2 separate regions of the Homo sapiens genome follow, and region 2 is linked to region 1. Evidence: fine-mapped expression QTL. A gene starts in region 1. The other region holds a variant in brackets. All regions are shown on one strand. Distances are from middle to middle.

The links. PIP is the estimated chance that this variant, and not a neighbour inherited with it, causes the effect.
Region 2: its variant is fine-mapped to the expression of DRC7 in testis (GTEx, PIP above 0.99).

What each region holds. Positions count from the first base shown.
Region 1 is chr16:57,693,237-57,696,146 of GRCh38, forward strand. DRC7 (dynein regulatory complex subunit 7) reads left to right here and starts at 1,570. Exons shown (of 19, transcript NM_001289162.2): 1 at 1,570-1,616.
Region 2 is chr16:57,716,243-57,719,152 of GRCh38, forward strand. It overlaps DRC7 (dynein regulatory complex subunit 7), which reads left to right. Exons shown (of 19, transcript NM_001289162.2): 9 at 2,105-2,233. Among named protein-coding and RNA genes, the nearest start is that of KATNB1, 18 kb to the right of the region's middle. The variant G/T (reference allele first, on the strand shown) is at 1,262.

The DNA of each region.
Region 1 (2,910 bases):
TCTTTCCATGTTTCCAGCAACAACCTAAACAACTATCAGTGCCTGGGGACATTGAAAGCTCCCTCTAGAACACCTGGACACCGAGTGCCCGTCACTGGAAGGACGAAGAGGTAATAAGTGTGGATCCACACAATAACGTGGAGAGATCTTAAAAACACAGCCCTTCATGAAAATATAAGAACCAGAAGGATATATTTGTTCAGTCTCATATTAAACATATATTAAAAACACCAGCATGCCAAACAATACTCATTTTGGAAAAAAAAAATACACATCAGAATGGTTACTTTATAGAGGTGGGAAATGAAAGTGGGTATGAAGAGAAAAAGGAATGAATAAATATGTAAAAGGAATGAAGTGTTGCATAGGGTTGAAAAAGGACAATGAAGCCTATGCTGCATCCCACTAGCATAACGCATCACCTGTTTTCCTTTCTCCTCCCTCCTCCCTTCCTGCCTTCATCCCAGCCAGTTCCCCACAGAGGTAATTACGAGTTGCTTAGCACCAAGTCTGAAATACTACACACACTGTCTCGTGAGCTCTCCACAGTGCAATTGATCCTTTAGCACCAAGTCTGAAATACTACACACACTGTCTCGTGAGCTCTCCACAGTGCAATTGATCCTTTACAGCTTATTTTTATGGCTGCATGATATTCCAGCTGGGAGGGGGAACATCATTCTCTATTCATGAGAATTGAGGCAATTCCTAAGTTTCTAGCAGTAACACTAACTGTGCAAACTTGTCAGCACAGTGACAGTCTGGATTCCCTCCTGGCAGCCCTATCCCCTGACCAAAAAAGGCCCATGCACCCCTCCCTCCAAAAATAAAACAGTGAAGATTATATTTTAGGACTGTATTGGTAAAAACACAGATATAATTCAGGGCAGATTCACACTTATATAGTCATTATTATTCTCATTTTTTTCTTCTGAATTTAAAAGAAATTAAACATTTTCATGAGCCACTAGCCTAATGGATAGGTTTTCCCCGTACTTCGAGGTAATGTTCTACATCACAGCTCCGGCCTGGACTAGAACCCAGGACTCAGTCAAGGCAGCCTGGTTCTGTCCACCGCAGCTGGCAGCTACTCCAGGCCCCACACTGGTTTCTGTCTGTCTCGATCAAGGCCACATTCGGCATGCCGTGGGGCAGGGGCTGTGCTGTGCTGGTAAATGTTTAACAACTGGCTGGCTCAGAGGAAAAGCCCTGGTCTTGGCGTTTGCTAATTTTTGTGGTGTAAATAACCCCATGGCCAATTTTTTTTTTTTTTTTTTTTAGAGAGGTTCTCACTATATATTGCCCAGGCTGGTTTTGAACTCATGGGCTCAAAGGATTCTCCCGCCCTGGCTTCCCAAAGTGCTGGGATTACAAGTGTGAGCCACCGTGCCCAGCCCTCTTAATTTTTAATAATGGCTGTGTTTCACAAAAATTTTGGAAAGTTTAACAACTATCAAGTTGATGCCCCACTATACCAGTGCACCGCTGGCAGAAGGACCCATGAAACCTGGGAAGACTACATTTCCCAGAAGCCTCCTCTCCCAGGACCGGCGTTCAGCTTCCCAGGTTGTTACCATGGAGATGGCTAACAGCTAGAGCAGGCTGTCCTCGGAGGGGTGAGGAGGGAGCAAGGGACTTGGGGTGGCTGGACCCTGTCTGGCAGGGAAAGGGTGAGGCTGGTGGCCCCCTTCTGCCTGGGGGCCTCCAGCCCTGATCTTTCTGGGGAAGTTGTTGGTGGGGTGTGTGTGCGTGTTTATGTGTGTTGGGAGGAGGAAGTTGCTGGTGGAGAGGGGGTGCAGGGAAGGGCCGGTGGGTTGGGGCAGAATCTAAGGAACCTTGAGATAAGACTGCCTTCCCCACACTGGGCTATAGCTGAAGAGGCCACCTGTGTAGGGAATAAAGTGCTGTGGGTTCTTCTCCCCAGCTCTGCCTCTGATGGTGTTCTGGGACTGACACGTCGGCTTCCTCTTCAGCCTACTTCTTTCCTTGCCCACCACTCCCCCACCCCCACCATCCCTTCTAGCACTTCCCCATCTCATATCTCTTCCAGCCTGAGACACACAGGTTTCACAACCAGAAATACAGGGGTTCAAATCCCAGACCTGCTACTTACTGGCTGTACCTTAAGCAGTGCACTTAACTTCTCTGGGCCCCAATCTTCTCATCTGCAAAGTGGGTGTCCTCAGTGTCTGCCTCATAGAGTCAGTAGAGGATAAGTGAGATGATCTCCGTACAACCCTCAGCACAGGTCTGACACACAGTAGGCATTCAGCAAACTGTAAATGCCTTGTAATGGTGATGACTGCCCTTCCTGGGCTCATTGTCTCTGGGACCAAGAGGCCAACAAATGGATCTGATCACTGAGAAGTGCTGCTTGGCTAGAGGTTCTCCCCTGAGGATCTGGGGTCCTGAATGGTGTTGGGCTACCTAGGCCTTGGGTGGCTTCCAGCCAGATGAGCATTCGTCCCCTCCTGAGTCCCAGAGCACAGAATGTCAGAATTGGACAGAAAATATCTGCCCTCCCTTCCTACTATAAAGAGAAACTAAGGCACAGAAAGGCGCAGACAGTGACCCAAGGGTCCAGCAGGAGCTACTGGCAAAGCCAGGGTTTCCCCAACCAGGCTCAGTCGTGGCTGGTGGCCAGGGACTCACCTCCCTAGGAGGCCGAGGTGGCCCATGTGGGTGTGGAGTTGGAAATTGGGGCCAGCCTTTATCTGCTGCTCCCTTCTGCCCTCTTGCTCCTGGCTTCACCCAGGGAAGTGGGGGATGATTAGAAAATCAAGGGGATTCTGCTTTTTTTCCTTACTACTCGCCCCCTTTGTCCTGTGGGTTTCGTTTGTTTTCCTCATCTCTGGACCCCCATTTGCCGTAAGGAAAACAGATGTTCGAGGACAGAAATGGAAAGACCCC
Region 2 (2,910 bases), 23 kb after region 1:
CTTTAATCCCAGGACTTTGAGAGGCCGAGGTAGGTGGATCACTTGAGGCCAGGAGTTCAAGACCAGCCTGGCCAACATGGTGAAACCCTATCTCTACTAAAAATACACAAATTAGCTGGGTGTGGTGGCGGGCACCTGTAATCCCAGCTACTCAGGAGGCTGAGGCATGAGAATCGCTTGAACCCAGGAGGCAGAGGTTGCAGTGAGCCGAGATCATGCCACTGCACTCCAGCCTGGGCAACAGAGCAAGACTCCATCTGAAAAAAAAAAAAAAAGAGTGAAAAAAGGCAAATATCTATACAATTGGGTTCCTATCCACTAAGCCCATTAAGCTTTGCCACAGTCGCTGTGACATCTACCAGCAGTTCTCTCCCCAACTCTCCTCTGCTGTGCCCCCCACTTCTCTCCCCTCCACCCACGAGCTAGGGCAGAGAAATACTCAGGAGCCCTCCCAGGACCCACACATGACAGTGAGTACTAGGCTTAGAGTTGGCTTCAGGACAGCTTAATATTAACACCCCTCCAGGCAGCTGTTCTGCAGCCTCTGATTTCCTCTGGAACATGATTTAGGGTGGGGAGAACACCTTGCTCTAGGAAGGTTGATTAGAATGTGAGGTGCTCCCCACCTTCTAGGAATTATCTGACAGATGAGCCACTTTTATTGAGGGGACTGAGGACTCAGGTGGGCTGGGTGAAAAGAGGTCAGGAGTTTGAGACCAGCCTGACCAACATGGTGAAACCCTGTCTCTACTAAAAATGCAAAAATTAGCTGGGCTGTGGTGGCGAGCACTTGTAGTCCCAGCTACTCAGGAGACTGAGGTAGGAGAATCACTTGAACCGGGGAGATAGAGGTTGCAGTGAGCCGAGATCATACCACTGCACTCCAGCCTGGGCAACAGAGGGAGACCCTGTCTCAAAAAAAAAAAGAAAAGAAAAATAAAAGAAGGTGGCAGACACACTCCATGGAGGAGAAATTCCCACCCACCTGCTGTTTTTTTTTTTTTTTTGGAGAGACAGGGTCTTACTCTGTCTCCCAGGCTGGAGTACAGTGGTGTGTTCACAGCTCGCTGCAGCCTCAACTTCCTGGAATCAAGTGATCCTCCTGCCTCAGCCTCCCAAGTAGTCAGAACTACAGGTGCATAACACCATGCACTGGCTTAAAAAAAAAAAAAAAGGCCAGGCACGGTGCCTCATGCCTGTAATCCCAGTACTTTGGGAGGCCAAGGCAGGCGTATCACTTGAGGTCAGGAGTTCGAAACCA[G/T]CCTGGCCAAAATGGTGAAACCCCATCTCTACTAAAAATATAAAAATGAGCCAGGCATGGTGGCATGTGCCTGTAATCCCAGCTACTCAGGAGGCTGAGGCAGGAAAATCGCTTGAACCTGGGAGGCAGAGGTTGCAGTGAGCCGAGATCACGCCACTGCACTCCAGCCTGGGCGACAGAGTGAGACTCTGTCTCAAAAAAAAAAAAGAAAAGAAATTGTGGAGATGGGATCTCCCTTTGCTACCCAGGCTGGTCTTGAACTCCTGGGCTCAAGTGATCCTTCTGTGTTGGCCTCCCAAAGTGCTGGAACTACAGGCATGAGCCACCATGCCCGGCTCTCCACCTGCATCTTATGTATAACTTCCACGTGTGCCTGCCTATTTCCCTTGTTCCTGGCATGGGTAAAATAAACAGGAGGAAGCCTTTTTAAAAAACCTTCCACTTCCTGGGAGTTGCTAGACCCTTCTGCCATCAAATCTTGCTGGTTTGTTTTCATTGGCTCTAAGCACTGCCCAGCCGATGCGGAAAGACCTGCACATCCAGGTCTAGCCCAGGCCAGAGAGCCTCCTTGTCTTTCACAGAGGTCAACACGAGATTTCCTCACAGGGAGGCTGAATGATGGGCAGGGAGTTCTGCTCCCCCTCGGGGCCTCAGTTTCCCTGTTGGGATGAGGAGTGTGGGCATGGACTCTCAGAGCCACCTGGGACTGACGTTCTGCTTCCCCAAGCCCTGGGCCCAGGTCCCTTCTCTGCCCCGGAGTAGCCATCTCCCAACTCCCCATGGATCAGGTGGGGACGTGGTGGCTGTGGGGTACACTCAGTTGACTGCCCTCATCCCCAACAGGACTTGATCTTTGACCTGGGTGACCCTGTGAGATGGGAGTACATGCTCCTGGGGACTGATAAGTCTCAGCTGTCCTTGACTGAAGAAGACGACAGTGGGATAAACGATGAGGATGATGTGGAAAATCTGGTGAGTCTCAGCAGCTCGAGAGCCCAGGGAATGTGTGTGAAGGCTTCAGGGAGCCTGACAAGTGTCCCCAGCAGCATATGTGTGGCAGTGGGGGATGGCCCAAGTAGACCAGTGATGGGTTCCTCAAAGCAGGAAGGCTTGAGCAATTCCCTTATTTTACAGATGGGCACATTGAGGCCCAGAAAGGCCAGAAACCTACCCAGGACCTCCCAGTGGGTTACGGAAGGGACAGGACTTGACGTCAGGTCTTCTGCCCCCCATATCGTCCACCTTGTTCAGGAGTTGCCCTGCTCCTTTGGAAAGCATGTCCCTTGCCAGCCTGGGCAACATAGTGGGACCCTGTCTCTACAAGAAAATTTAAAAATTAGCTGGCTGTGGTGGCATGCACCTGTTGTCCCAGCTACTTGGGAGGCTGAGGCAGGAGGATCACTTGAGACTGGGAGGCCGAAGCTGCAGTGAGCCATGTTCATGCCACTGCATTCCAGCCTGCGCAACCCCACCCCACCACAAAAAATAAAAATAAAAATAAATTTAGAAAAAGAAAGTTGCAGAGCGGGGTCATAACACCCCGCTCTGCAACCCCCTGGGAGTCCCAGAGCTGGCTGTTCTCAGTTCTATCCCAAGTAGCCATCATGAGCCCCACATGCTGCCAGGCCTTTCTTGTCTGTTCTGTCAGT